Regions from separate parts of the Homo sapiens genome. Here regions 1, 2, 3 and 5 are each linked to region 4. Evidence: fine-mapped expression QTL. A gene starts in region 4. Each other region holds a variant in brackets. All regions are shown on one strand. Distances are from middle to middle.

Region 1 (5,682 bases), 580 kb after region 4:
TTTGGCAACTCGCTCATTTTCCCTTTCTGAACTTGCACACTGACCATCATGCTATGAGGATGCTCAAGGCTGTAAAAGCCCCTCTATAAGCAAATGGAGGGAGGCAGTTCCCCTTTGACCAAAGCAGAAGACGCAGAAGCATCATCCATCAACATTTCAGGTAGTACTATTCCAGCGTTGACATCCGAGTTCTTTTATTATATTCTTAAATTTCTACCTTTCATTCCTCAAGTAAAGAACACAAGCCCATTCCCTTTCTGCTCTGCTCTTCAGAGAGCTTCTTGGGAAACCAGATACTAATCATTTCAGAAGTGACTGTTTATCAAATGCACACCCTCTGGGGGTAAGGGGTGACTTGGAGGTTGCTGGGCCAGTGTGGGAATCTCCCAGTGTCCTGTCCGTGTTGTCAGAAGGTGGTCACTGTTTGGTCCCAGAGGGGTCAGCTCCCACTGTGTAACAAAACACCTGTCTGTGCACAGCAAAGGAGAAAAGTGACACTCGTCTACCATCGATCAGAGGCTGGGTTTCATGACACACGGGACATGGTCTTTTTACGTTCCAAGAGACTCTTTTGGAAGTTGCTTATCTACCCTGCGTCCTTGAAAAACGAACTTTAGAGATTAAAAAGGGCGCTTATAAACTCAAGTTATACATTCCCAATTTATCAAAAGATGACTCACCAAGACTTTTGAGGAAACCACAGAGTCTTCTGGATGCATCAGTTACACTGAGGTTGAATTTAGCAGCAAAATAAGGCAAAGATTGAGGACACACAGACACTACCAGCACTTTGTGCTTTGAGGTATCACATTTCTAGAAGGAGAAATAGAGAATGTTAGGTATCTGCTGATTACACAAGGAGTAAAAGTTACACACCTTAATGAGAAATTCAGAACAACGTTAATAGATGGTCTATGCAAAGACTAATAAAATAGACAAACACTGGCAAACATAATTAAGAAAAAGGAGAAAAAAAATCAGGATTATGGTGAGGTTTGGGCTTCTGGTAAATATTTTTTTAAAAGTCAGGATTTAAAAAATGAAACATGAGCTGGCTTCAGTGGTGCATGCCTACAGTTCCAGCTACACAGGAGGCTGAAACAGGAGGATCACTTGAGGCCAGGAGTTTGAGACTGCAGAGCGCTATAATCACACTTAGGAACAGCCATAGCCACTGCGCTCTAGCCTGAGTGACAGAGTAATACTCTGTCTCAAAAAAAAAAGAGTTTCACCCTTGTTGCCCAGGCTACAGTAAAAAAAAAAAAAAAACAGAGTTTCACCCTTGTTGCCCAGGCTACAGTACAGTGGCGCGATCTCAGCTCGCTGCAACTTCTGCCTCCCAGGTTCAAGTGGTTCTCCTGCCTCAGCCTCCCAAGTAGCTGGGATTATAGGGACCTGCCACTACACCCAGCTAATTTTTTGTCTTTTTGGTAGAGACGGGGTTTTGCCATATTGGGCAGCCTGGTCTCAAACTCCTGACCTTGTGATCCACCTGCCTCGGCCTCCCAAAGTGCTGGGATTACAGGTGTGAGCCACCTAGCCTGGCCAATACTCTGTCTTAAAAGAGACAAGACTACAGATCTAAAAGACTTTGTCAATTTCAAGAACAATGTTATATCAGTAAATGTGAATATCTGGAAAAAATAAATAATTTTAAAGGGAAAATACAAATTACAACATTGGCCAATGAATAAGTGAAATTACTACACAACAATAAAAAAAACAGACACACTAAAATGGTATCCAGAGATGCCTCTTAAAAGTCATCAGCCCGGCTGGGCATGGTGGCTCATACCTGTAATCCCAGAACTGTGGGAGGCTGAGGCAGGCGGATCATTTGAGGTCAGGAGTTCAAGATCAGCCTGGCCAACATGGCGAAACCCATCTCTACTAAAAATACAAAAATTAGCTGGGTGTGGTGGCATGTGCCTGTAATCCCAGCTACTCGGGAGGCTGAGGCAGAAGAATCGCTTGAACCCGGGAGGTGGAGGTTGAAGTGAAATGGAGGTTGCAGTGAGCTGAGATTGCTCCACTGCACTCCAGCCTGGGCGACAGAGTGAGACTCCATCTCCAAAAATAAAAAATAAAAAAATAAAAAAAAAGTTACCAGGCCTAAGATGTTTTGTGAGTAAGCCTCATCTACAAACTGTTCTAAAAAAATACTGCATAAACTAGCATAAACTAGATGTTGGCAGCGCAATAGAAGACAGGTTCAGATATAAGAGTCAAGGGCCAGGCGTGGTGGCTCATGCCTATAATCCCAGCACTTTGGGAGGCCGGGGCTGGTGGATAGCCTGAGGTCAGGAGCTCGAGACCAGCCTGGCCAAAAGGGAGAAACCCCATCTCTACTAAAAATACAAAAGCTAGCCAGACATGGTGGTGTGCACCTGTAATCCCAGATACTCAGGGGGCTGAGGCAGGAAAACTGCTTGAACCCAGGAGGTGGAGGTCGCAGTTAGCCAAGATCGTGCCACTGCACTCAAGCCTGGGCGACAGAGTGAGACTCCATCTCAAAAAAGGGTCAAGAAATAGACACGCAGTACAAGGGTGGGGTGGAAGTAATGGGGAAAAAAAAAAAAAAGAAGGCCAGGTAC[G/A]GTGGCTTATGCCCGTAATCCCAGCACTTTGGGAGGCCAAGGCAGGTGGATCACTTGAAGCCAGGAATTCAAGACCAGCCTGGCCAACATGGTGAAGGCCGAAAAAAAAGAAACAAATGGATGCACATCTATCAATATATAAGAGAGGTAGGATAATATTTCAGGTCAACAGGGGAAGAACAGAAGATGCTGGAACAATTTGATTTTTTCAAATAGAAAAGAATGTATCTGGCCGGGTGTGGTGGCTCACGTCTGTAATCCCAGCACTTTGGGAGGCCGAGGCGAGCACATCACTTGAGGTCAGGAGTTCGAGACCAGCCTGGCCAACATGATGAAACCCCATCTCTACTAAAAATGCAAAAATTAGCTGGGCATGGTGGTGCCTGCCTGTAACTCTAGCTACTTGAGAGGCTGAGGTAGGAGAATTGCTTGAACCCAGGAAGGAGAGGTTGCAATAAGCTGAGATCACGACACTGCACCCCAGCCTGAGAGACAGTGAGAGACTCCATCTCAGAAAAGAAAAAAAAGGAAGAAGAATGTATTCACATCGCACACCGTACTAAAATATAAGTTGTAGACTGGACAAGCAGCATAAGATAAAATATAAACTGTCAATAAACATCATCTAGGGTAACCAACTTCTCTAAATAAGCAAGAAAATGCAAATGAGATACAATTCTCTATGTATCAGGGGGGAAAAAACTGAATTTGATATTGAATGTGACCAGGATGGCTGCACACAGCTGTTTGCCCCTATCACTTAGGGAAGCATAAAGTGACACAGACACTTTCAAGGGTTTTTGCAAAAACCGTTGACACCACAGAATTAAGTCTCTAGTAGTCTGCAAAGCTGTATCCACTAAGTCTGTTCAACGTAACAAAATGGCTGAAGCCATTCTGTTCCCTGAAAGGCCAAGGGTGAGCAGGTGGGGACGGGTATGCATGGCGAACCTGGCTGATGGGTGGGGGGCATCTCCTGGTTCAGACCATCCTATCCAGGCAGCCTGCTGCTTGCTAACGGAGTTCCCGTGCAAGTGCATATAAGTCAGGGTACACCCAGACACAACTAATGCTGGCAACACAGAGGACATGTGTCTCTATCTGCAATTGTGATCTAGGTCATGGGTGGTGGCTGATGCCTATAATCCTAACACTTTGGGAGGCTGAGGCTGGAGGATCGCTTGAGCACAGGAGTTCAGGACCAGCCTGGGCAACATGGCAAAACCCTGTCTCTACAAACAATACAAAAATTAGGCAGGTGTGGTAGCACGCGTCTGTAGTCCCAGCTGCTCTGGAGGCTACAGGGAGCCTCCAGAGGTGGGAGGATCACCAGAGTCTCCCCACTGAGACTCTCTCCACTGCACTCCAGCCTGGGTGAGGCCCTGTCTCACAAAGAAAAATATTGTGATCTAATTGCTGCTGGATGACTTGTCCAGAAGCCATGGGGGTGAATGGCAAACGCTGAGAAGGCTCCTTGGCTGTCCCCTATGCCACCCACTTGTGCCAGTCAGTGTTTCTTGAGGCCCCTACCTTGCTCTAGCACACTACCTACTGTGAATGGGCTCCTACACCCTGGGCAGGGTAGGATGCCGGTGCTTCCCGTGGAGGTGACAGCATGGAAACCAAGAAGTGCTTTTCAGCCTCATCTGCCTTTGTCTCTTTCTCTTTCACCTGTGATATGGTTTGGCTCTGCGTCCCCACCCAAATCTCATGTGAAACTGAAGGCTGGGCCTGGCAGGAGGTGACTGGGTCATGGGGGCGGATCTCCCACTTGCTCTTCTCATGATAGTGAGTGAGTCCTCACAAGATCTGGTTGTTTACAAGGGTGCAGCACCTCCCCCTTTACTTGCTCTCTCCTGCTGCCACGTGAAGACATGCTTGCTTCCCCTTCACCCTTCCGCCATGGTTGTTCCCTGAGGCCTCCCCAGCCATGTCTCCTGTAGATCCTGTGGAACTGTGAGTCAATTAAACCTCTCTGCTTTATAAATTAGCCAGTGTCACGTAGTTCTTTGTAGCAATGTGAGAATGGACTAATACAACCTGTCTCACGGAAAGACAAGTGGCACCTCTCGTTCTGTATAGGAGGTCTGCAGGGATGAGCTGAAGGAAGGAGCTTTGGGAATTTTTACTTCCTTGGAGTGTCTCTGCCTTGCCCCAAGCTGATCGGTCTATTAGAACATAACTCTCGTGTCCGAAAACGTGCAGCCGAGGCAGAACAGCAGGAGCTCCGGCTCTGTGCTGCCCGCATGATCACCAACACCCGTGTTACCTGACCTCACCAGGCAGAGGCCCCGCTTAAGCCACAGGAGCCTGAGGGGTGATGCCAGCCCCCCACCACTGCCTGAGCATTATTAAGGGAGCAGGAAATTGTGCGGGGATTTTGCTCTTGATGGAGAGGTTTGGAAGGTCAAAGCAGGATGTTAGCAACACCAGGAAAAGGCTGAGATGTGCATCCGATGTCCCAGCAGAGGCTTCTGTGCAGGAAGCCAGGCCTCACCTCCACTTCCTCCAGGTCAGCTCCCCAGCATCAGCAAATGCCCCGAATGCCTTACCTTGTTAAGGTTCAGAACGCGGAAGAAGTCCTTGGCATTTTGCTGGGAAAGTTGGACTCCTTCCTCTGCAGTCATACAGCTGTCACATGCCAGGCAGTCGCTCAAAAATATCTTGGCATCAGCCAACTTGTGGAATTCTCCCTTCTATGAAAGATGACGTTTCAGCATGATTATTCAACAAATACTCTTTAATGTGCTTCTTTAGAGAGGGTAACACCCATATACAGAATTCACAGTAAACATTGGAGATAATACCAGGGTCCAGGCCTGGTGCTCAAGGGGCTGGAAGCAGGACAGTCTCTGCCACTGAGCAGCTCAAGGTGGTGAAGGGACACAGGACACAGGGCCCAGCCCACAATGACACTAGGGAACCATGCAGATGACAAGGGTGGAACCCAGCCCTAGCACTGTCACGTGGTAGGAAGTAAATGACCCCTGTGTTCTGGAAGCTCACCCCACTGCTAGACCCCTTCCTCCTAGACCCCTTCCTCTTTGGTGCCTGTGATCCAGCCCTCTGACTGCTCCTCTAGCTCTGT
Region 2 (6,438 bases), 110 kb after region 4:
TTTCTCTCCTACTAGTATAGAAGTTATCTTCCCCATACATTAACTGTTTGTGTGTGACTAAATACTTCAACATGCACCTAGCCAAGCTGATAACTGAATTATCTGCACTCTGTTCCAGGAGAACATAGACTTAAGATGCTCTAAATTCAGCCACCAACTCTGCCACTGATTTATATGCTGCTGTTGTCCATTTTAAGCAATTCTACGTGCTTTAAAAAAAAATCCACATATAAGCCATCTTTCTATGTTTTTATGGTCACAGTTTATTGCTTCCCTTGCTCCACATTCCTCCAACTATCCAACTGCGATCATTTCCCTCCTGCCTAAAGTTTATCCACTAAAGCAGTGGTTCTCAACCAGGGGCACCCCCAGAAGATATTTGGCAGTGTCTGGAGACATTTTTTTTTCTTTTTGTCACAGCTGGGTAGGGGGATGCTGCTTCCATCTGGGATGTTGCTGAACACCCTGCAATAAACAGGACAGCTCTCAAAACAAATGACTCAACCCCAAATATTAAGCCAAGATTAAAAAACCAAACAGATAAGAATGGCATATTTTTATCTAAATGACTTAATTTTGTTCTCTTCTTTAATGTTATGCTGTGGGCACAATTCAAGCAACTTGACAGCTATTTTCTCTCAGCATAATGAAGACCTTGGTCTACTCACTGCTCAACTCCAGTGCTGCTGCTGGGAAATTGGTAGTCGTTTATATCACTCTGTCCTTCTTACAGTTCTGCAGTTTCACTGTGGCAGGTCTAAATGTGAGACTGTTAGGCTTCTGTATCTGGGGACTGTTGCATGTCAGTATGGAATATCTGCATCATTTCATTTCATTCTGAGACCCCAATTACCCAAAGGTTAGACATTCTTCAATGTCTCTTGATGTTGCTGTCATATCTTCCAGTTCTCTGGATAATGTTTTCAGATCTTCCAGTTTTCTAATTCTCTCTTCAGCTGTGTCTAAGCTATCCATTGAGCTTTTCATTTCACTTCTTACATTTCTAGGGGCTCTGTTTTTTTCTAATCTCTTCTTGATCATTTCTAGCCCTTTTCAAAAATGTACTCATATTATAGCCTACATTCTACCAGAGAGGTTTTGTATTTGCATCTTCTGCCCTTGTCTGGGAATACCACTGGTCAGGGCCAAGTCAATCAAATTTTCCACTTTAGGAGTTTTGGGGATCATACAGGTAGTATTAATTCAGGCCACTTCAGGGGAGATAGATTGAGATAAGAGTCTTGCTGCTGTTCCTTTGAAAAAGACTTATTTAGGGTCCCAGCTTTATATAGTGGTCCATTAGATCTGGCCCTGGGCCTTAAATTCTCTCATCCATTCTGCTATCAAAATAGCGTGACTAGATTCCAGGGCTCAGCAGAAACCCTCAGGATCTCCAAGGTCTCTGCTCTCACATGGAGGGTTTCTGGTTAGCACCTAGAACGTGTTTGTGGGTACACAAATCCCACATCAGCTCCCCGGTCCCAGGGATACTGGCTTCTTGCTGCTCTCTAAACTCACAAAGCTTGCTCCACTTCTGGGACCACAAGCATTCTCTTTTCTGCCATTGGACACAGTCTGGACCTCTGCCCAAATGCTGCCCCTTCAGAGAGGTTTTCTGAACACCTTCTCGGAGTCAACACCCAACATGCCATTCCATTGCCCACTTTATCTTTGTTCATAGCACTCAGTGTTGCCTGCCTTGATGGTGCTTGCTTGTTCATTTGCTATTGTCTGCCCCAGCTATCATGTGAGCAAGGGGTTCCTTGCCAAACTCTATCACCTGGACCCTGGTGGGCTCCAGAAACGGCTGCTGAAAGAGGGCTTTCCAGGCCACCAGGTGTCTGGTGAGCACAAGTGCCCCAGTGATGGATGGGATCCAGTGGGAAAGAGGCAGTGGCCAGTGGAGTGATCCACTTTCCTCGGGTTGCTAAGTTAGACCGACATTAAAAGAAGAACTGCTTTGCCACATAGTGTCACTGATGGGTCTGGGTGGGTAATCGACCTGCCTCCATGTCTTAAAATGCCATTTATCTGGAATCTTCTTTTAATTGCACTAAGAACAGTTCATCATGTTTTTCTCAGAAGCCACTTGTTCCTTCCATCCTCAGTGCATCCCAGGCCAGCAGGAGCTTTGTGAGCTGCAGGCATGGCGATGGTGCGCCTGTTCCACACCCAGCAGGCGCAACCAGAGTCTCGTGTGTGCCGACCACAGGAGCCAAGCCTTTTCCACTGTGTGGACTCATGTGGCCAAGGCTAGGCCTGGTCACCCAGGACCCTCACCACGTGACCCCAGCCAATCGGGACAGTTCAAGGAGGAGGAGACCCCTATTACACAGGTTGGAATAAAATATTTAAATCTCGTAAAAATGTAACCCAAGGCTCTTTTAGGGTATAAAGACCATTGGCCACCAGGTCAAACACAACAACAGTAGTGTGTTAACCCCACACTCCTGTGTGGCCAGGTCGTCACACACATCCCGTGAAGAGCTGTCTGCTAAACACACAGCACGGACTGTCACAGTCCTGGTCTTGTGGTCCTGGTGACCTCACAAGCCTCACAGATGCGGTGGCACCTCCCAGTTCTCGGCCTGCCCATGTTCCTGTGTCCAGGCCCCATCCCCACCTGAGAGCAGGCCAGGGAGCCACCCTAATCTACACCACGCACATGGCACCCCTGGGCTCCTCACATAGGGAAAGGGTTGCTCACCCAAGCCCTTGGGCCTCTGAGTGGCCACACCTGGGGCTGCTTTGGTGCTGCTGGCCGTGGTTCTGCACCTCAAGCCCTATGAGCACAGCACAGGTCCCAGAGATGGGTGTGGGTTGCTACCACAGTGAAATTTTTATACACGTTCCCCTCACCAGCTTTGGGATGGATCAGCACGAGCTCAGACACAGAGACAAAGGTAGCCTCCTGCCCTTTGCCTAAAAACCCAAGTGTGGACTCTGCCCAGGCTCTCCTAAGACAGTGTAATTATTTCAAGAATGGTATTTATTTCC[G/C]ACATTACTGTAGAGGCACACATTGGACTCTGACGATTCCCCTTGCAGCAGACATTTGTGAAGCTGCTGGTCGGCACACCCATCAATCAGTGACTCCTGCACTGCAGAGGGGCCACATGCACGATGCTCACGTGTGCACAGGGGGGAGGACAGCACCCCCACCAGGCAGACGGGCCCAGAAACAGCATCTGCCCAGCACTCCAGACCATGCCTGCCACCAGGGCTTCTCAGTTCTCTAGCATTTGAACCTCTGATTTAACATTCATCTCTCTCCAAGACTGGGTGGGGCACTGCCTGTGGCCAGACGTCTCCCACAGCAGGGACAGCACCAGGCAAGAAGGGGGCCTGGTCTCCAGGCAGGAGGAGTGCAGCCCACCTCCCCTCTGGCTGACCCCTGGGCAGTGAGCCTTTCCATCACCCCTACACACATCAGGCTCAGAGACAAAAGGCAGGAACTTCTTGGTACATGATTTTATAGGAAGCACATTTGTGTTCAAGTGAAGGCAGAGGCGTCCACCCCAAGTCACCAGAGCGCAGGTGCAGAGAGGAAAAGCTGTCAGCTAGTGCCAGCCTCCAAGGGCCAGCGCTACCCTTCAACAGCTGGAGGCACCACTGTGCGAGGCTTTCCACACCGGCCTCCCTCAGGAACAAGACATCCTCACCAGGCAGGGGTGAGGTATGGGCTCCAGGACTGGCTTCAGCAGGCACCAGGCTGAAGAAGAGACAAGACAAGCTCAGGCTGGTCAGCTCCAACACACACCATTCCCAGCCAGGGGACCCTCACCCCTCTGGGCCCTGTGTGGGGACTGACACGGTTCCTGCAGGAAACCATTTGTGCCGTTTCCCACACACCCGGCAGCCTGAGCTATGTGGCTGACAGGTGCTCATGACTAACGTGTCCTCGGAAGGGCACCCCATCTGGGGAGCGGGAAGGGAGGTTCACTGCACTGCTCTTAACCTGCATTCACACGTTTGAAATTTTTCCTAATAAAAATGTAAAAAGCACATTTAATTCCAAAGTCTGCTGTTGAGTTCAGCCTTTACACACACAGAAATGGGGGAGGCTGTGTCCTGATGCTCAGCCCATCCCCACTGCCCCCATGTATCTAGACATGGTTCTCCTCCTCCCTCTCAGATATAACCTCCTGCCGGAAGGAGGCTGAGAGGAAGGAGCCAACCCTGGTAACTAGAGAGACAGCACAGCAACCCTGGGCCCCAGCCCCCGAGAGAACTGAGGTACTTGTTTTTGTTACTTTAGAAGAGTGACGGGCTGGTGAGGTGCACAGGGGCAGCTTCTGGGGGCCTCTCACCCAGCCCCGGCCCCACTCATGGGAAGCAGATGAGGAGGGGTAGGGTGGCACTCTTGGCACTTGGAGCACAAACAGACCCCAGGGCCAGGCATGAGGAGCCTGGATCAAGCTGGTGCCAGCTCCACCCACTCCCCGGCCCCCCAAACGCCCCAGAGCAAGTGGCCTGGATGCCACAGGGGCCCACAGGTGTGGGCAGTGGCCAGAGAAGGCAGCTCTGCTGGTCCCGTAATCCCAGGGGTCCTGACATGAGACGAGGGAACGGGCCGTGTGGACGTGCTGGCAGAAGCTAAGCACAGCCGCTGGCCCCAGAACATTCCAGAGCTCAGGGAAGCACAGGCACCTCATGCTGTGAAGGTGACAGGGTTACCTGGGGCACCAGCTGGGGCCTGGGTACGCCCAGAAGGTCACACAGACGGTTGCGCTGCTCTCTCACCACTGCAAGCTCCGCGTCCCTGTGAGGAGAGGGAGAGCCGTGAGTCTCTCGAGTGCCCACCGGAGAACCTCAGGTGTGCGGAGGTCCCGCGTCAAGCTTCCATGGCCGCAGTCAGGGAAAGGAGACCTCACCCCCGACATCCATAGCCAGGCTGAGGGCAGAAAAGACGTCACAGGAGCACGTTCTCCAGCAGAGCCTCGAGCCTGAGCCCTTTCCGGAATCGCAGGAGGACGGTTCCTTCCCAACAAGGGGTGCCCCTCGGGAAGGACCACGCCCAGCGCAGGGACTGCGGGAGGACAGACCAAGCGAGGCCAAGGAGGGGCTGACAAGGGTTTTCCAGGTTTTAATTTAGCTGTTGATGCGAAATAAAAATTCTAGCAATGCTGTGGAGATATCTGGGGCATGTTTTTCGTTTCTAATTTAAAATATTCTCTTTAAATTCTAAGGATTTTTTTTTTTAACAGAAAGGGGATTAAACGATAGGAGAAGCCCCCAGGCCCACCCTGCTAGTTCCTCCCTCCCTGATGTGAGGAAAGGAGGCCACCCCGACCCAGCCTCGCTGGAGGAGGCCTCGCCCCGCTCGGGACACCTGGCTTCTTCAGTCCTAAAGCCAATTATTTTAGAATCTGGTCCAGAATGCACCTTGGTGTTTTTTTTTAAAAAAATCATTGTAAAAACGGGTCTCCAGAGCAGTAGTTAAGATGGCCATTCTCTCAACGCATGTTGAGAAGACAGCCCAGCTGCTCCCGGTTCCTCTCCTGGGACCACGTGTTTGTTTAGGAGCAGACACACACTCCTCCCCAAACCAGAAAACCTCGCGGAAGCCCTGGAGAGGCCACCTCTGTCCTCCGAGGCCACAGCGGCTGCCTGGTGCGTGAGCTCTATGGGAACCCAGCCCTGTTGGAAGGTCACTGTTCCGAGGAGACACCTAGGGAACGTCACCTACGTCCTTGCTGGATTCAACAAGGGGCGTGGACCCCACAGACCTGTAGCAACGCACCGGGATCAGCACGGAGGCCCTCACAGTCGGCACTCAAAACAGAGCAGCATCCACAGGCAGGACACCTGGGACTCCACCACCCCGGGTATGCCATGTGGACACCCACACAGCCTCTGGTTGCTTCAGTCCTGATCTCCAACACGGGGTGACGAGACTGCTCCCCTTTTAGAAGTGTGTGTGTGTGTGTGTGTGTGTGCGCGCGTGCAAGTGAGCATGTGTGTGAGCCAGCATGGGTGCCCATGCCCATATGTGTAAGACACCATCACTGCTGTTCCCAGGAACATACCGGTTGGCCCAGGACACCTGAGCCTGCACTTTCCCCACTCTGCTCTCATTCAGACCCTCCCACCCCCAACTCAATACACACATCTTTCAAAACCGCCATTCTACTCCACCCATGGTAAAGAAGCCAGCCCATGTTGCAGAAACTGTGCCTGCCAAAGTAAACGTGGAGAGTGGCACTATGGCCTCCTGAGGGCCTCATGGCCCTGAGGAAGGGGGTGGACATCAGAGCAGAGGCGTGGGGAGAGCTTTTCTTATTTCCGCCTGTGCCTCTTGATTTCCAACAGGTGCTCACACGGCCTATTCCAAGAGAACTTTAGAGAGGTCTGGGGCAGCAGCACCTGCCAGGCCTTCAGTGCCCTCTGCTCCACAGGCCACCAGACACAGCCTTGTGGTACAGGTGCCCGCTCCCCTGG
Region 3 (6,438 bases), 91 kb after region 4:
CACCCTGTAGCCTGAAACACTGGTGGAGGGTGTGGAATTTATCTTGGTGGGTTATTTACAGGGGTCTCTGTTTCCTGGTTTGGGGTTTGTTGCTATTGTAGAGGGAGAGGCTGAATTTTTATCCATGGAAGTGTTGCCAGTTTTTAGTTTTCTCTGCTGGACTTCATGTCCCTGCGTTCCGCGGACTCCAATCGCTGGGCCCTGGCTCGAGCTCTCCCCCTTCTGTCCCCGCGTGGTGACTGCTGCTTCCTCCTGGAGGTTCGCGCTGGGGATGGGGCTCTAGAGAAGGGCGGGTGGCGCTGGGGACGAGCCCTGGGGAAGGAAGCGCGTCCCTGACTCGGCTTCCTTTTGCCTCAGGATCCGAGTCTCCACAGCCTCTGGCCCGGCCTTCCTGGGAGTGGCTTTAGCTCACGCTTTTCTCCTCCAGGCAGTTCTGGGTGCTCCATCCCCCAAGGCTGCCCGAGGATGGTTCTGTGAGCAGATTGGGGCTGGGCGGCGGCCACACTTCCTCCACTCGGCTTCTTCCCTGATGCCTTTCTGGGTTGTGACCCCTCCCCCTCTCCCTGCGCCCCGCCAGGGGTCCTCCACACCACAGGGCAGTCCAGGCACCTGGAGGCTGATTGGGAAAAGCCTGGGGGAGGAGTGAGGCCATTTCGGGCCTCTCAGGTCTCAGCAGCAGCAATCAGGGGAGGGGAGAAAAATGGGACAGATCCTCTGCGTCCCCCTCCTCCCAGGGCAGAGGCACCACCCGGGAGCGGCTGTTGACTAAATTCTCACTTTACTGCCAGAAAATAAGAAAACCCCAAGGGTCGGGCTCTTCTGGTGATAGGAAGAGAGAAACCTTTTTTCTCTTCTTAAACCTGTAACATGTTGAGAGTTCCAGTGCTCTTTAGAGCTGCCTTTGAAGACACAGAAAATTAAAGAAAATACCTCAGTGACCCCTGCGAGGGTCCGTGTCCACCAGCACCCGCGGGAGCCTCCACCCTAAATCACCCGTGTGAGGGTCCGTGCCCACCAGCACCCACAGGAACCTCCACCCTAAATCACCCGTGTGAGGGTCCGTGTCCACCAGCACCCGCGGGAGCCTCCACCCTAAATCACCCGTGTGAGGGTCCGTGTCCACCAGCACCCGCGGGACCCTCCACCCTAAATCACCCGTGTGAGACAGCATGTGGGCTTCTGTGATTCCTTTGTCTTTATCTTATGGTGGATAAACTTTTAGCAGGGCTGACACATGATTTTGAGGTCTGTTCTTTGACTCAGCATCTTCTTACAAATCTTTCCATGTCATCGTGGTTTTTGTAAAAGGGATCGCCCTGGAGAGGCGGAGGTTAAACAGTGCCTTTTTTTTGGACGTGGAACCATAGCACTGCCTGTCTGTCCTGGGAGCAAACAGGCCAGCGGTTGGGCCGTGATAGTTTGGGGACTTTACTGACCTGCACTTGAAGTTTGTGTACCAGCCAAGGAGAGAAGAGGCTGGACTTGGTGATAGACTGGCCCTGCTGCTAGGCTCTCAGAAAACCTGCCCTTTCCTGGAGCAAAGGTGTCTCCGGGCGGCTGACCCAGGTGAGCTGCCGCAGAGAACCACGAGGAGACCAGACTCCACGCCCTGCTCCTCCCTCAGTTTTGTTTGAATTTAAGAAAGCGACAGGGGCCCGGCTCCACACAAGGCCCAGAGCCCTGGGCTGAGGATTGGGGTCACCCAGGAGAGGAGCAAGCAGAGGGCAGGGGCCACTGGGATCATGGGCCGGGGAAAGCAGGGCCCAGGTTCTCACAGGACAGAAAAGTCTGGTGGGAATGCCTGCAGAATGTTCTGGAGCAGAGTCCCACTGACATGGAGGGAGTGTTCGGGGATAAGCCCCGTGGGCTGAGGTTCAAGTTTCTGAGCTTGGACAAGTGAGCAGGGCTGGCACAGGCCCGGGGCTGCCTCCCCACTGCTGGGCTCCCCTGCCCGCAGCCCCACACGCCCACCCAGCACCACTGTCCTCTGCCCACAGTCGGCACTTTGAGTCCCTTGAGCTTCTGGGGCTGCAGCCACTGGCAGGAAAGGATGGGGACGGAGGCCGGACCAGCCATCCAGGAGCCGTGGCTGTGAGACCCTGACCCACCCCAGCCCCTTTCCTCGGCTGCCTGTCTTCCTCTTTGCCCTGAGACCTTTACTGCTCAAAATGGAATTTGGGGCAGAACCAAGACCCAGCCCACCCTCCCTTCCCCTCTTTCCCGCCTGTGGAGAAGCTCGGTTGCTCACGTCTGTTGTGGTCGCCGCCCCACGTCCCTGTTGAGCCTCTAGACCGGTTTCTTTGCAACAAAAGCCTTTTCCACCGGTTCCTGGTTGGCCGGCTGAGCGCAGGTGTAGTGTGCATCCGGGGCAGGCACGCGTTTCTGGGGCCCCAGTGATGCCTCTGCTTCTCCCGCCCTGCAGGGCGTCCCGGAGGACCTGCTGTTCTTCTACGAGCACCTCAGGAAGGGCGGCGGCGTCATCCGCGTGGACCAGAGTCTCCTGCTGTATCGCCACCACCCACAGGCGGCCACGCACTGCGTCCTCGAGTGAGTCAGCCCCGCCCGGCCCCGGGACGCCTGAGAGGCCAGGAACACGGGAGGCGCCCGAGGTCGGGGCCGGGGTTGGTGGGGCCGACCCCAGAGGCTGTGGTCAGGCTCTGCCTTGAGACCCAGGGTCTGGTGGGACACGGGGCAACAGCACATCCCGAGGGTGGCGGGGATTCGGCGTCCACGAAGGGGCATTTCCCAAGGGCGCCAGGGAGCGCCAGGGTGAAGGCCGAACGTCCTTCCCTAGTTCCCAGAGGTAAAATGACCACGCGCCGGGTCCTTCTGAAACCCTGTGCTCCCTTTAACCCGACGGGAGTCTCATGAGTGGGGTCCGGCGGGGACCACAGGCCTGGGGGGCGCAGCTGCCGTGGAGGGTGGCAGAGGCACGGCCAGGGAATCGCAGCACCCAGTGAGGACGCGCCCAGTGCTGCGGGGTCCGCCTCCCTCTCCCGTGTCACTGTGAGGAGCGGCCACGTGGGCCCGGGTCTGGGGGTGCCGCGTGGCTGCGTTGGAGCCGTGGCAGGGGTGAGGCAAATCGGGGTGAAACTG[C/TGC]ATGTAGAATTCCTTCCTTAGATCCGGGCAGACAGTTCCCTCCTTAGAACTGTGAGGACACAGAGGTCTCGGCCACCTGCCTGCCGCGTGCCGCAGCGTTAAGTTGGAAAGCAGGCCGCCGTCCGAGGCTTGCGTCTCGGCCCCTACGGGTACTCAGGGCCCCCGGAGTCTCAAGACCCCAACTAGGGTCATGTGTGGGTGTGGGAGCCGCGATGGTCCCAGGCCTGCCGTGATGGGGTTGAGACTCTCGGCAAGATCCCAGCTCCCCAGGGGGTCTAAGGTCCAAGGTCACGGGGTGGGGCTGGGGGGTTGGCAGGAGGGCCACGAGCTTCCCCATTGGGGGCATCATCCTCACTCCTGCATGCTGGGGCCTCCCGCGTCCGCGCTCCTCTCCCTTATGCCCACCGGCACCTTGGCCGCCTCCTCATGCGGTGACGTGTCCCTGACACTTCAGCTCCTTTGCAACATTTCCAGAAATGCTGTCTTGTGCTTTTGGGAAAAACTGGGTTTCCACCTTTCCCGGTGCTAAGGCGGGGCCACGGCTTCCTCTGAGGATGTAAAAAGAGAGGCATAGGGCGCCCTGGGGAGCCTGTTCTCCCTGATTAAATGAGAACTTTTTAAAATGTGAAAAATGAAGATGAACCAAATACAGACATCATGGCTGCTTCTACATTTTACCTTCCTACGATGGGCCAACATTTTCAGACCAGAGACCCCTAGGAAAGCCCAGGAGACAAGGGGCCGTCGAGGAGGCCGGTGTCAGAGGCCCCCCAAACCTCGCGTGCCACCCACGGCCACAGAGGCCCCCCGCTTTCTTCTGGAGCCCTGACTGCTTTCCTGTCACGTGAACCCCCTGGGGTCCCTAAGCTGATGTCAGTGGATGAGGAGGATCAGGCTCGTCCCCCCGCCCCGAGACACCCAACACACCCGGGCTGCTAAGGACAAGATGCCAAAACCCGGCGAGGCTGCGTCACCTGGTGGGGAAGTCCCCGCAGCCGTCTGCAGGAGCTGTCCTCACCCAGGTTCTCACACACACACACACACTGCACGTGCACACAGACCACATGTACAGCATGCACACACATACGTGCACGAAAGTATACACACGTACTCACTGCACACGCTCACTGCACACACGCACTCACGTGCACACACACTGCATGTACACACATCTGCACGGTACATGCAGGCATGTGCACTCACTGCATACATGTACTCATACTGCATGCACAGGCCCTCACTGCACACACGTGTACACATGCGTGTACACACATCCACACAGTACATACAGGCATGTACTCCGAACACCTGCACACACTGTACACGTGCTCATGTACACATGCACTCACCACACATGCACACTGTGCACACACAACATACACCCCCACACAGTGTACACACACACCATACACCCCCACACATACACACCATACACCCCCAGTGTACACACACACACACCATACACCCCCACAGTATACACACACACCATACACCCCCACACAGTATACACACACACACACCATACACCCCCACAGTGTACACACACACACATACACCCCCACACAGTATACACACACACACACCATACACCCCCACACAGTATACACACACACACCATACACCCCCAGTGTACACACACACACACACCATACACCCCCAGTGTACACACACACACACCATACACCCCCACACAGTATACACACACACACACATGCTTCAGTGTCCCCAAGTCACTGACTGGGATAAGCATCTCCCTGTGTCCCAGGTGGGGTCCGGACTATTGAGGTGGCTGCAGAGGGTTGGGGAGGAAAAGGTAGACTCCAGGCAGGACCTCCCTGACAGTGCCTAAGCCCTGCAGCTCCCTGAGCTGACAGAGGGGACCCCGTGTCCCCCCATCCCCCCCATCCCATTGCCTGTGGGGGTTCTGCTACAAACAGGGGGTGCCACAGGGTTGGGGGGGAGTCACAAGTTTATCCCGGGAGGCGGAGGCAGCAGCAGAATCGTAGAACAGCGAAATCCTGCCCCGATCCCGAGGCTGAACCCACGAGGGCCCTGCTCAGGGGAGGCCCGTCACCAGCCAGTGTTGGTTGTGTCTGGCCCAGACCCCACCCCGGAGGAGACTCCCACGGACACAGCTCCCTTGACACAGCAGAGGGCATCCCAGGACTCGGCCAGGGCAGGGTCTGTGGGGTACCGGGCTTCAGCGTGGCTACATCGCGGCCATTGGGGAGGACAGCATCTGGGACACATCCCACGCCGTTCTGGCCCCGTTGGCCTCTGCATCCCCTGCCCCTCTAGCTTCTGGCCCGTCCAGCTCCTGGGGCTTTGAGACGGGCTCAGCCCGGGCAGCTCCAGGAGCAGGGTTGAGGGAGAGGCACACACAGGCAGACAGCGATGGGGCACGTGGGGAGGGGCTGCGGTGGGAGGAGAGAGGGCGGGGCTGGGAAGGGCCCGGGCAGCGATGGGGCTGGGCGCTGGGCAGAGCAGCAGGTCATGGGAAGGAGCCTGCTCCCCCCGGGACAGCAGCCTGGGGTCGACTTGTCACAGCAGAGGGAGAACAGAGACCAGGTTCCCAGGGGAGTGGAAGGGTTCGGGGCAGCGACCCTGAGGCAGAAGGTCGTGTCCAAGTGTGAACGCTGGGATTTTATGGGATGGTTGCATGTGTCCTTATGGACAAAGGTTTCTCTGGGAAACTGGACTTGGGTCAAGTCCAGTCCTCTGCGTCCTACAGAAATTCTGCCTTCCAGAACCTTCTAGATTCTTAAGTGACAGCTTCTCATCTGTCCCCACCTGTTGGGGTCTAATGGAAGGGGTGGATCCCCACCTAGGCATGTGGCTACGTCCAGCTGGGGCAGGTGGCCTGACTGTAGGACAGCCAGTCTCTCTTAGGCATTGGGCCAGGTGTCCACTCCACTGGCAACGTGAGCTGAGCACACATCATGTCCCTGTATGTCAGCATCTGTGTGCATCTGTGGGGCCTCCGGCCTGCCTATCACCCTCTTCTCCACCGCAGGACGACCATCTGGACCCACCGCGTCCGCTTCCTGGAAGAGCAGGCCCTGCCCCGCTGGGCGGCCTTCACCATCTGGAACGCTGGCAAGCAGGGGCGCCGGCTGTACCGCAGCTTGACTGCCGGCAGCCAGCGCAAGGTGAGCATCCTGCCACCCTCCAACACTGCCTGCCCTGCCCCCGTACTGTCCCACAGCACAGGCCCTGGCCCCGGCCTGTCCAGAGCTGCCCTTCTGTGCTTGTCCCCAGGTGGTGGCATTCTGTGACGTGGACGAGAACAAGATCAGGAAAGGCTTCTATTGCCACGAGGACTCTCAGGTGTGCAGGGCCGCA
Region 4 (6,438 bases):
TAGGTGTCAACATATGGTTTGGGGGGACACACACATTGAGACCACAGCACCTACTCCAGGCCCCTGGCAACTGGTACTGAGTCCTCTGAATATAGCCAGTATTCGCCAAAACCTTTTGCACAAACAACAATTAAAAATAAAGAAAACTGGCTATCTGCAATGGCTCTCACTTGTAATCCCAGCAGTTTGGGAGGCCAAGAGCTCGAGACCAGTCTGGGCAACAGCAAGACCCCATCTCTACAAAAATAAAATAAAATAAATAAATACAACTGCCCACTCAGTGAACCCAAAGCTGTGGGGCGTTTTGTGTCACTTCCTCTGCTGGTGCCCACGTGACGTCAATCATCTTTCATCAGCACCTCACTTCCCTCTGAACGAAGACCACACGATCTCCACCCGGCCAGCTCTGAGGCCCCAGGTCCTCCTTCCTGTCTCTCTCCAGGGTACAGTGTCAGTGCCTTCTGTCCGGGCCCTCTGCTGACCTCTCCCCGAGGATCTTCCTACTGCGAGGGCAGTGATCTCAGGCCCCACCACCCTTGGATTTCAGGACCCCACCTCTGCAACCCTGCATTTCTGAAACGCACCTTGGCACTTTGAATGTTCCCAAAAAGGAGATTCTAATCAAATTTGAATTAGGGGGAAGTCAGTGAAAAGCAAATTTCTGGCACCAGGAAATGTACAGGAAGGAAGGTGAGAGGCAAGCCCAGTTCTGGACACCATGTGCTGTGGAGGGGCAGAAGCCATCTGTGACCCCTGACCTCTGGCCCTTACCACCTACCTTATCATGAGCCTACGGCGCATTCTGGCAGCTACAGGGCTACTTTTTACTGAGTCCTTTACAATGAAATGATTCCTAGTACCCCAACCTCTGGAGAACATGAAGTCCCTGGAAGCAAATTCTCAGATAGCTTTTGCTGAACGGTAAATAAGGCTGCATTTTCACTCATGTGACTTAAGCAGTCCACTTGTAAAACAGGCTTTGCAAACAAGGAGGCAATTTAAGGGAAAAAAAACCATCTATGAAGTGATGCTTAACAGAAGTTTGGCTTTGTTGTAACGGTTAATTGACAGAATGATTTGCATTTAATCTTAGTTTTGGACAGCCAAGGATTTGTCCAGGAAGGGCTGCTTACAGCCATGCTCATTAATTGTGAATTACTCATTACTTCAGATCAGCTGGAACAAATCCCAAGCGGGCTTAATCTCTGTGTGCAGGCAGCCCAGGGCTAATGGCAGCAGTCCTTTTTATTGACCCCCACGGCCCTGTCCCCAGTCAACCTCCTCCAAGCAGGGAGTTTCCAGAGGCCTCACAGCCGCCTGGGAGACCCCTCATGGCAGGCTGCTCCCTTGACAAGTTCAGAACTGCTGGGGTTCCCGGCCGCGCGTTCAGGACTCAAATCTGGAGATATCCGCTCTGTGCTCCTCAAGTATAAGGTTAGATAGGGATGGGGCCTGGCCTGTGTTCCTGGCAGGGAAGGCCACCTCTGAGCTCCCCCAGAGCCCGGCCGCCTTCTCCGGGTTCCCAGCCCTGCAGTTCCCAAGGCTGCATGCGGAGGCGGAAATGAGGGCAAAGGTGGAGGGTACCCGGAGCTACTGAGGTCATGTCTTTCCCCAGGCACCCCTTCTCCTGGGGGACCTCACGGTGGGGTCAGGGCCTCACTCCCGGGCACCCCTCCTCCTGGAGGACCTCACGGTGGGGTCAGGGCCTCACTCCCGGGCACCCCTCCTCCTGGGGGACCTCGCGGTGGGGTCAGGGCCTCACTCCCGGGCACCCCTCCTCCTGGGGGACCTCCTGGTGGGGTCAGGGTCTCACTCCTGGGCACCCCTCCTCCTGGGGGACCTCGCGGTGGGGTCAGGGCCTCACTCCCGGGCACCCCTCCTCCTGGGGGACCTCCTGGTGGGGTCAGGGCCTCACTCCTGGGCACCCCTCCTCCTGGGGGACCTCGCGGTGGGGTCAGGGCCTCACTCCCGGGCACCCCTCCTCCTGGGGGACCTCCTGGTGGGGTCAGGGTCTCACTCCTGGGCACCCCTCCTTCTGGGGGACCTCACGGTGGGGTGAGGGCCTCACTCCTGGGCACCCCTCCTCCTGGAGGACCTCCTGGTGGGGTCAGGGCCTCACTCCTGGGCACCCCTCCTCCTGGGGGACCTCGCGGTGGGGTCAGGGCCTCACTCCCGGGTACCCCTCCTCCTAGGGGAGCTAACCCCGGGCACCCCTCCTCCTGGGGGGACATCTCAGTGGGGTCAAGGCCTCAGGCCTGGGCACTTCTCCTGGGGGACCTCGCCCCGGGCACCCTTCCTCCTGGATGACACCCCGGTGGGGTCAGGGCCTCACCCCTCTCCTGGGGCCGTCAAGTGTCCTGCACGCCCTGCTCTCCCTACCGCGTCTGTCTGAAAGGACGCCCTGCAGTCCCCTCGTCCTCCCCGGTCAAGTAGCACAGCCCACAGCCCGGGTGAAATGCAACGACCTTTTACATATCAGCCTTGCTTGAGGCTTTACAGCAACTCCAGGCCGCCTGGCTTGGGTTTGCAGCGCGGCGCCCTCGCACAGCCCCGCCTTCCCCGCGGCGGCGTCTACGGGGGACCAGAGATTGTGACGCGCGCCCTAGGGGAGAGCAGGAGGCTTCCACGGGCCAAGGAGGCGGCTCCGAGAGGTGACCCGGGACCGGGGCGTGGCCCAGGGCGGAAGACTGAGGCGGCGACCTCCCGGCCCCGCCCCGCGCCGAGCAGCCCCGCCCCTTCCACGCCCCTCCGGGAGGCCCACCCCTATGGACGCCGCTCTGCACCAATCGGAGATTGCCTGGCCTCAGACCCGCCTCCTGGTGCCGCCCGCGCAGGCGCCGTAGGCCGAAGCGGCGGGATGAGCGGAGCCGGCGTGGGCGGGGCGTCCGAGGAGAGCCAGGCCATGCAGGCCCACGTGGTAGGTGCCAGCGGGGAGGGTGCCCCGCCGTGCAGGCTGGGTCCTCGCGTCCCCTCACCCCGCCCTCCAGTCCTCTCTCGCTCCGGGGTTCGCAGCCCCGCACCGCCTCTCGGGCTCACCTACGGGGTCTCCGCCCTGAGCAGCCCTTAGGCCCCGCGGGCGAGCGCGGCTGCGCGTGCGGGGGACGCTCGGGATTGGAGCCCGCGGGGCGCGGCCGAGATCTGCAGCTCCGGCTGCGCTTCCTGCCCCCGTCCCGCGAGCGTGGCCTCCTCACCGACCTTCCTCGTTCTGATTTTGAAGCTTCCGGGCTCGGAGCTCAGGCAGTTCCCCGTTCGCCCTCACCTGGTCGTGGGGTGGAGGAACGGCGCACCTGCCTCATCCCCGCCCGCCTGCCCCGCGCTCCTTCCCCGCGCCCGCACACCTGCCTCGCTCCCGCCTCGCTCCTGCGCACCTGCCCCGCCCCCGCGCACCTGCCCCCGCACCTCACACACCTGGTCCGCGCACCTGCGCATCTGCCTCGCTCTTACGCACCTGCCTTGCCCCTGCACGCCTGCCCTGCACACCTGCCCCGCCCCCGCACACCTGCCCCACACCCCACACACGTGCCCCGCGCTCCTGACTCGCCCCCGCGCACCTGCCGCGCGCACCTGCCTCGCTCCCGCACCCCACACACCTGGTCTGCACACCTCCCCGTGCCCCACACCTGCCTGCACACCTGTCCGTGTGCCCCCACACAACCTCGCACCCCACACGTCTGCCGTCACACATTCCCGGCACACTTGCCCATGCCCCACACACACGTCTTGTGCCTGCACACCTGCTTCACACACCTGCTCTGCGTCCTGCATACATGCCCGTGCCCCATACCTGCCCGTGCACCTGCCGTGCACACCTGCCTGCGCATCCCACACACCTACCTGCACACCTCCTCCGTGCCCACACACCTGCCTGTGTGCCCAGCACACTTACCCCAAACACGTGCCCTAAAAACCTGCCCTTAAGCCCCGAACACCTTCCCCGTGCTCCGGCAGAGGCTGGAGCAAAGGCCCTCAGGGTTCAGACCCAGCCAATAGGCCGATGCAGGGAACAACCACAGGGATGTAGGATTAGCAGTCGCCCAAAGGCTCAGCATGTTTTCTGTTTTTTGTTTTTTTGTTTGTTTTTTTTCCAGCCTTTTTTCTTTTTTATTCCAGTCTTACTAAAATTGGTAACAGGTGAATCAAGGTCTATCTTTGATAGAAACATTATATTTTGTAGATCTTGAGAAAAATTATTTCCTTCTTTTCCTCTAAGTAAATCCAAACTAAGGTAAATTTGTAAATAAATTAGGGAACTCGTTTTATTTTTTTTTTAATTTTTATTTTTTGAAATGGAGTTTCACACTCGTTGCCCAGGCTGGAGTACAATGGCGCGAGCTCGGCTCACCGCAACCTCTGCCTCCCGGGTTCAAGCGTTTCTCCTGCCTCAGCCTCCCGAGTAGCTGGGATTACAGGCATGCACCACCACACCAGGGTAATTTTGTATTTTTAGTAGGGACGGGGTTTCTCCATGTTGGTCAGGCTGGTCTTGAACTCCCGACATCAGATGATCTGCCCGCCTCGGCCTCCCAAACTGCTGTGATTACAGGCGTGAGCTACCGCGCCCGGCCAGAACTCGTTTTATTCTTATTAACCTAAGTCCAGGAAGAGACAGAGTGAGGTTTCATTTGTAAAGAACTTGACTAAATTGTGTTTTCAACACAATTTCAACTTTTCTTTTTTGGATATAAATTAAGGGTGAGGACAGACTAATCTCTTAAGTATCGCTCCGTATCACTTAATATTATAATGTATGAAATTAAGACTTAACTCCTGTAATCAGTTGTTTTGTTGGCATTGAATTTCCTGGTTTTACTCCATCCCACTTTATAAATTTTTGTTTTGGGCTTCATGAGAAAAGGACAATGAGAAAAGGACACTAGCTACACTAGCCCGAAACGAAGTGTAGGACAAAGGAATCGAGAGATGGACGTCAGGCCTCCCATTTGCTCAGCTGGGTTCTTTGAACACCTCCTGCCCGATACTTTGTTAAAACATTGTTTTTTGTGGGCTGAGGGGTTACTTAAAGGGGTTACTTTGTTGCAGGTTTTCTAACATGGTTTGCCGAAATGCTTATTCCACCTAGAACATGACCAGCCAGCACCTGTAATCCCAGCTACTCGGGAGGCTGAGGCAGGAGAATGGCGTGAACCCGGGAGGCAGAGCTTGCAGTGAGCCGAGATCGAGCCACTGCACTCCAGCCTGGGTGACAGAGCGAGACTCCATCTCAGAAAAAAAAAAAAAAAACCAACCAGTTATTTTCATGAGTGAGTTGGAAGATACCCAGATACTTGTTTCAACCAAAATGATGTTTCTGATCAGTGATTGGAAAACTCATGATTTACCATTGAGTTGGGAACAATTTGATGCCTTTCAGTTTTTTTGTTTTGTTTTGTTTTGTTTTTTTGAGACAGAGTCTTGCTCTGTCACCCAGGCTGGAGTGCAGTGGTGCAATCTCAGCTCACTGCAAGCTCCGCCTCCCGGGTTCACGCCATTCTCCCGCCTCAGCTTCCCGAGTAGCTGGGACTACAGGAGCCTGCCACCACGCCTGGCTAATTTTTTGTATTTTTAGTAGAGATGGGGTTTCACCATGTTAGCCAGGATGGTCTCAATCTCCTGACCTTGTAATCCACCCACCTCGGCCTCCCAAAGTCCTTTCAGTTTTTTTTTCACTTTCAAAAACATGTAGAAGGCAGTTCAGGGAAAGCTAAGACGTAAAGAATCTTACAAGCATGTTAAGAGCCTGGAGAAAAGGAGTGGACACCTTTTGTTTGTCACGGCATATGTGCGGGTGGTGAAGGGGAGGTAAATTAGAGCCATGGAAAGGGAACTAAGTTTTCACACTTCTGTTAATCCATTTCTTTTGAATTCCAGTCTATTATCCTCCCAGTCCACAACGCTGAACCGTGGCTGGACGAATGTTTGAGGTCTGTTTTGCAACAGGACTTTGAAGGTACCATGGAGCTGTCTGTTTTCAATGATGCCAGTAAGGTTTGTAGGAACTTCCTGTCGGGTGACTCAGCCCCAGTGTAAGCAACGGTTGACTGTTCGGAGGGAAGTTTCCTGACCTGCCAGTGTTCTGCTTTCAGGACAAGTCTGGGGCTATCATTGAAAAATGGAGAGTGAAGCTGGAAGATTCTGGTGTCCACGTGATCATTGGGGGGCACGATTCTCCCTCTCCTAGAGGCGGTAAGTAAACATGCTTAGTTTATTAAACTATAATTCGTGGTTTCTTATCAACTTACGTACCGAAACAGTTTCATGTTGTTCAAATACTGACAAAAAGTATCCTGGTGGTAATTGGATATACCACTTATTAAGAACCTAGTAGAGGCCAGGTGTGGTGGCTCACACCTGTAATCCCAGCACTATGGGAGGCCAAGGCAGGCGGATCCTTTGAGGTCAAGAGTTCAAGACCAGCGTGGCCAACATGGTGAAACCCCA
Region 5 (6,319 bases), 76 kb before region 4:
CACGGAACAGCACAAACTTCGATGGAGGAGAGTTCACTGCACTTAACAAAATTGCAAGCGCGTCTGGCTCTGACCCAGCAATTCTAAGAATTTACCAAATCAATGTAAAAATAATATTTTTAAAAGTATGTGTCTTCGGCCGGGCGCGGTGGCTCACGCCTGTAATCCCAGCACTTTGGGAGGCCGAGGCGGGTGGATCACGAGGTCAGGAGATGGAGACCATCCTGGCTAACACGGTGAAAACCCATCTCTACTAAAAATACAAAAAAAATAGCCGGGCGTGGTGGCGTGAGCCTGTAGTCCCAGCTACTCGGGAGGCTGAGGCAGGAGAATGGCGTGAACCCGGGAGGCGGAGCTTGCAGTGAGCCGAGATCGCGCCACCGCACTCCAGCCTGGGCTACAGAGTGAGACTGCATCTCAAAAAAAAAAAAAGTATGTGTCTTCAATGATACTTACATCCTAAATGCACATCAAGGAGAGGACCGGTCAAATGTCTCGGCAGATGCGTACAATAGAATACTATGAGGCGTGAAACAGAACACGAAGTTCTTTTTGTAGTCATATGAAAAGATCTCCAATAAATAATATTAAATTAAACATAAATACGCAACCCTCAAGTGTGGGCTGTGTAGACTGACTTCCTTCCCGAGAGTATGGAGAGGGAAGGAAAAGGATCACATCACCGTGGGGAGACCTGACCGACTCCCCTCAGCTGGGTGGCCGAGGCCAGTGTCCACAGCAAGCATCCGTGCTGGGTGTGTGAGTCCCTCACAGGATGGGGTGAGCAGGGCACTTCACCTCTGGGGTCATTGTCCCCAGGCCCCAAACCCCAGTCTTACCACGAGAAACACATCAGAACAATTCTAACAGAGACGCAGCTACCAAACACCCAACAGGCCTCCTCAAAACTGTCCCAGTCACCAAAAGCCAGTCTGAGAACTGCCCAGCCCCGAGAGGCCTACGGAGACGCGGGACAAAGTGTCATGTGGGACCCTGGATGGGTCCTGGGACAGAGAAAGGACATTTAGGGGAAACTAAAGACGTGAATAAACTTCAGACTTTAGCTAACAATCATGTGNCAACACTGGTTCATTGATTGTAACAAAGTATCATTCTAACATAAACTGTTAACAGTGCAAGAAACTGGACGTGGGTATGTGGGAACTCTCTCTACGATCCCCTCAATTTTCTGTAGACCTAACACTGCCCTAAAAATAAAGTCTATTATAAAAATGAAAGAAAATTTAAAAATTTTTAAGTAACAAGGAGAAAAGTGTATGTAACATCCTGCCGTTGGTGTAAAAGTCAGGGAATATGTATTTGTATTGAACTGTATGTGCTAAAGGACCTCTGGGAAGTCACCTAAGACACCAGTGACAATGGCTGCCTCTTCCAAGAGGCAGGACTGAGCAGACGGGAGAGGAGGTGGGAGGAGTGAAGATTTTTTAACACATTTTGAAGTTGGAAATTTGTAAACTCGTTATTTAAAATGCTTAAATAAGGGAGGAGCGGGGGCTCGCCTCATGGGACCTGTCGAGGTGAATAAAGCAATGATTGTGAGGCCTCCCAGTGACGGTGAACTCCACCTACGGGATCCGCACAGGAAACATCACCCTTCGTCCTGGCCTGACCCGGCCCCGGGCGTGGTGGAGACCAATGCTCACTCCCCCGTTGCTGCAAAACCTCGGTGGCTTTAAACAACAGCAACTTCATTTTCTCAGGAAGCTGCCTCTGGGCAGCACCCCTGGGCTTGCCTCCGCTCCACTCAGCGCTGGACAGTTNTCTGAAGCTTTAGCAANCCCAGCCAGAGTCCATGCTCCTTTGAACACAGGTCCAAGAGCCCAGGGTCTGCGAAGCCCAGGTCAAGAAGCTCGGTGAGAGGTCTGAGAGGCAACAGGCGGGACCCACGGACACCAGCATGAATGTCCCGTTCCTCTCACTCTGTCTGGCGCTGGGATCCCGTAAACCTACAGCACATCCCACTGCAAATGTGAGGGCTCCACAGGAGACTCCTGAGTGGCACCGGGGAACGGTCAGCCCACAGGGCGTCAGGGGCCCTCCCCCAAATCCCTTCCCGGCTCCAGGATCTGCCCCTTTCTCACTTGGACTCCTCTTCCTAAGACAGGTCTTGCAAGGCTGATGGGGAATCAGAGAGAACGACCTGCTGGCCCAGCTCAGCGGTGTCGGGTGCTCTCCTGGGTGCCAGTTCCCAGATGCCCGGGTGTAGTCTGCAGAACCAGCTCCGTGTTATGCTTGAGAGTGACTGGTAGGTAGCAGGAATTCAACAAATACGAATCAAATGAACAAATGTTTCATAGCATTGTTCTGGAACCCCCTGGAAAGGGGCTCCAGGACCATGTGATCTCAAGGGTGCATTCTATGGGGGACACCCCTTTACGAGAAAAACTTGGGACTGTGACGTACCCCCTCCCAAACTGGGAAGGGTCAAAAGACCAAGAAATGACTCAGAAGGGTCCACGTTATCTGACGAGTCAATGTGTTGATCAGGATTTACCAAGGACACTGCTGCACAGTGGCAGGACAGCCCTGAGACCTGCGCCGCCTCCCGTCTCCAAACTATTTTAAGCTGATCTTCTGGCTTTGCCTCCTGTGTGTGTGTGATGGGGCTGTTTCCTCGGTGGGTTCTCAGAGCCTCTCCTCGATCTTTGGGTTCTCAGAGACACCAACTCCTGGCCTGGGCACCAGGGCCTTGGCTCACCACCTGGCTTTCAGGGCCCAGGCTGCGAACACAGGGCCTTAAGAACCTGGTGGGGGACCTGCCACCCTACAGATCCCACACCCCACCCTACAGATCCCGCACCCCACCCTACAGATCCCGCACCCCACCCTACAGATCCCACACCCACCCTACAGATCCCACACCCACCCTACAGATCCCACACCCCCCCTACAATCCCACACCCACCCTACAGATCCCACACCCACCCTACAATCCCACACCCACCCTACAGATCCCACACCCACCCTACAATTCCACACCCACCCTACAGATCCCACACCCCACCCTACAGATCCCGCACCCACCCTTCCAGCGTGGGGCTCTCGGAGAGGACGGCCTGAGCTCTTGCACTCAGCCCCTCGTGCTGTGGTGCCTGCCTTGCATTGAACCTCTCAGTGTCCTGTGGTCAGTGTCTGCCTGGGGTCGCGAGGACAGCTGTGGGCTGTGGTCTGAACATGCACAGGACCAAGGGCCACACACAGGGACATGGTCACGGCTGCTGCTGCTCAGGGAGACAGGCAGAGTCCAAAGCGTCTGTGCCCGGAGGGGCCATTGCCTGCCTCTGAGAGCAGCATCCTTCAGGCCGACTCTGT[C/T]GTCCCCAGGCACTTCCCATAAGTGACGATGTCTGCTATTGCTTGCTTTATTTTTTTTTTTATTGTTGGACAAAATTAAAAGTACATTTAAATCAGTCCTCAGCTATGGGGGGTTACTTAACCGGCCCATGAAGTCCAAAGCCAGCAAGCTTGTTTCTGGATTTACGGTTGAAGCTCGTGCCAAAGATGCCTCTGCGTTGGGAGGGGAATGTCCGTGTGCTACAAACCACACACACTTCAAACCCCCACAAAGCCCACACTGGGCTGCACGCATCAATGACGAGCCAGTATTTAACAAGGTGTCTGAATATCAGAAGGGTCTTCTCATTTATAACAGTAATGTAAATTTACAGACAGTTGTAAGAATTGCAAATTGTCCAAAACCTGCTTATCCTTCAAAAATGACAGTCTTCAGAATTCCATGAAAAAATAATGTCTCTTCCATAATAAACACAAATATTTGAAACACAGAAACAAACAGGTTGTTTCATAGAAACAGATGCCCAGGCGTCCACCAGACCAGAGGGCAGTGGTCACTCAGAGAAGAGCAGGGCCCTGGGAGAGCTGGCGACCGCCACGAGGCCAGAACTATGCATGTTCTTTATGAACTCCCAAAGGGTAGATTTTGCTGTGCTATGCCCTGGACTTAAGCCAGGATGACCCTCAACCTCCTAGGTAAATGACTAAACCCAAGCCCGCTGATGCAAGGTGGGTCCTGACCTCTGACCCAGACACTCCACCATCCTCTTTGAGCTCCTTGCGGTGACACACGTCCTCGGGGCCTGTCCAGACAGGGGTTGTGGCATCTGATGGCCATCAGCTTGTCTCAGAGACCAGGGGTCAGCCTCAGGTGCAAGCCCAGCTGAACAACAGAGGCCCTGAGCAGCCCCAGCCATTCCAGCCACGCCACTGTTCTTGTCCTCAGATTATTTTCTGTGCAAAGGGAAAGGGGCTGTTGCAAGAAGCAGACCCTCCCTGGTCACGGCACCCTACACTGCCCAAGGCTTCCCGGTCCTGACTGCCCCCNACAGTCGTGCGGCTGCCCCAATGGCCAGAGCTGCCTCTGCTGCCCCCAGCATTCAGTGGAGCAGGGGTGCAGGGTGAATGAATGGTAATCCGTTCAGAGAACCTGAGCAAACGCTGTGCAAGCTGCTGGCTTTGAAAGGAAGTTGTCATCACATGCAGGGAACCCTGTCTTACCAGCCGACAGGTGGATGACCTTCTCCCCTGGCAAATCCCCAGAGAAACAGACTCAGAGCTTCCCTCAGGAGTGACAGCCCCACAGGTTCCCTGCATGAAGGGACAGAAGGTCGGACCTTGCAGGTCACCAGGGGTCCCCTCTGCACCCAGGTCCATCGTCAGGGCTGGAGTCAAGCTGGGCTCCACCCGCTCAGGTGCAGGAAGCCAGGGGTTCGAGGGCGAGGGTGTGGCCTGCGTCACCTGCCACATGCACATATTTCCTACTGACGCCTGCACGCTCCTGATTTAAGGTGACGTCTTTATAGCACTAAGCGCGTGGTAAAAATAAACCCACACAGCCCATCCGCCGCACTGTGTTGCAATTTATTCTCTTAGGAAATTTCCAGCGAATGGCTACAGAGTTGCCGAGGTTGAGCTAGAATTTCAGTTCTTCAAGGACCCAGGTCTGCGCGGAACCCAGGGGTGTGGCAGGAAAAGGGACCAGAAGCCACATGTCAAGAGCCTGGGGGAGGCTTCTGCCAGCAAGTCTGACCACAGCCATTCTGATGCGGAATCATCTTTTTTCCCTGAAGCATTCCAAGGCCTGTACAGGATGCCAAAGAGCTGCTCTAGCTCCTTACAGAATGGATGCGGGCTTTTTTCCTGTGCAGGTGGGAAGGAGGCTGCAGGAGCCTGTCAGTGGGAGCTGCTCCTGCCGCAGCCGCTGCCAGCTCTGTTCTGAAGCACTGGGAACAAGAAGGCATCGACCTGTGTGTGTGCAGGAGAGAGAGTGTCGGCTTCAGGCACTACGAGCCCTTGGAGAGCAGAGATGCCGGGCTGTGTGCCCGAAGGAGAGCGGAGAGGGATAGGGGTTGCCAGGGCTCGGGGAGACCACAGCCCAGAGGTTGCAGATGCCGTCAGGGCTCAGGGAGACCACAGCCCAGAGGTTGCAGATGCCGTCAGGGCTCCCGGAGACCACAGCCCAGAGGTTGCAGATGCCGTCAGGGCTCCCAGAGACCACAGCCCAGAGGTTGCAGACGCCGTCAGGGCTCCCGGAGACCACAGCCCAGAGGTTGCAGACGCCGTCAGGACTCAGGGAGACCACAGCCCAGAGGATGCAGACACCGTCAGGACTGGGGAGACCACAGCCCAGAGGTTGCAGACGCTGTCAGGACTCAGGGAGACCACAGCCCAGAGGTTGCAGACACCGTCAAGGCTCCCGGAGACCACAGCCCAGAGGTTGCAGACGCCATCAGGACTCAGGGAGACCACAGCCCAGAGGTTGCAGACGCCATCAGGGCTCAGGGAGACCACAGCCCAGAGGTTGCAGATGCCGTCAAGGCTCCCGGAGACCACAGCCCAGAGGTTGCAGACGCCATCAGGACTCAGGGAGACCACAGCCCAGAGGTTGCAGACGCCATCAGGACTCAGGGAGACCACAGCCCAGAGGTTGCAGACGCCATCAGGACTCAGGGAGACCACAGCCCAGAGGTTGCAGACGCCGTCAGGACTCAGGGAGACCACAGCCCAGAGGATGCAGACGCCGTCAGGACTGGGGAGACCACAGCCCAGAGGTTGCAGATGCCATCAGGGCTCAGGGAGACCACAGCCCAGAGGTTGCAGACGCCGTCAGGACTCAGCCCCTGGGCCAGGGGTGCCCTCAGGCTGCTTCCCAGGGAGGAGCTTCATGGGCCCCATCCGGGGGATGCTCCTCTTTCTCGGGCTCCTTTGAACGGACTGAGGCACAGGCTTGCTCCACACACACAAGCTCTCCAAGGCCAGCCCCAGCCCAGCAGCATAAGCTCTG

The links.
Region 1: its variant is fine-mapped to the expression of QTGAL in hippocampus (GTEx, PIP 0.90).
Region 2: its variant is fine-mapped to the expression of QTGAL in cerebellum (GTEx, PIP 0.96).
Region 3: its variant is fine-mapped to the expression of QTGAL in nasal epithelium (TOPMed, PIP above 0.99).
Region 5: its variant is fine-mapped to the expression of QTGAL in whole blood (TOPMed, PIP above 0.99).

The regions. Positions count from the first base shown.
Region 1 is chr17:82,463,895-82,469,576 of GRCh38, reverse strand. It overlaps NARF (nuclear prelamin A recognition factor), which reads right to left. Exons shown (of 11, transcript NM_012336.4): 3 at 5,147-5,290; 4 at 681-813. Among named protein-coding and RNA genes, the nearest start is that of NARF, 8.0 kb to the right of the region's middle. The variant G/A (reference allele first, on the strand shown) is at 2,595.
Region 2 is chr17:82,939,720-82,946,157 of GRCh38, reverse strand. TBCD (tubulin folding cofactor D) reads right to left here. Exons shown (of 39, transcript NM_005993.5): 38 at 4,675-4,759; 39 at 244-3,709. The coding sequence ends at 3,695. QTGAL (queuosine-tRNA galactosyltransferase) reads left to right here. Exons shown (of 13, transcript NM_001009905.3): 13 at 2,109-4,009. It overlaps LOC124904095, which reads right to left and starts at 4,668. Exons shown (of 1, transcript XM_047437261.1): 1 at 4,081-4,668. The coding sequence starts at 4,652. The coding sequence ends at 4,104. The variant G/C (reference allele first, on the strand shown) is at 2,998.
Region 3 is chr17:82,957,166-82,963,603 of GRCh38, reverse strand. It overlaps QTGAL (queuosine-tRNA galactosyltransferase), which reads left to right. Exons shown (of 13, transcript NM_001009905.3): 8 at 2,423-2,547; 9 at 6,110-6,245; 10 at 6,355-6,423. Among named protein-coding and RNA genes, the nearest start is that of QTGAL, 91 kb to the left of the region's middle. The variant C/TGC (reference allele first, on the strand shown) is at 3,097.
Region 4 is chr17:83,048,216-83,054,653 of GRCh38, reverse strand. QTGAL (queuosine-tRNA galactosyltransferase) reads left to right here and starts at 2,884. Exons shown (of 13, transcript NM_001009905.3): 1 at 2,884-2,917; 2 at 5,869-5,985; 3 at 6,084-6,183. The coding sequence starts at 2,903. It overlaps LOC124904094, which reads right to left and starts at 3,467. Exons shown (of 4, transcript XR_007065967.1): 1 at 3,409-3,467.
Region 5 is chr17:83,124,351-83,130,669 of GRCh38, reverse strand. No RefSeq gene overlaps it. Among named protein-coding and RNA genes, the nearest start is that of METRNL, 48 kb to the right of the region's middle. The variant C/T (reference allele first, on the strand shown) is at 3,334.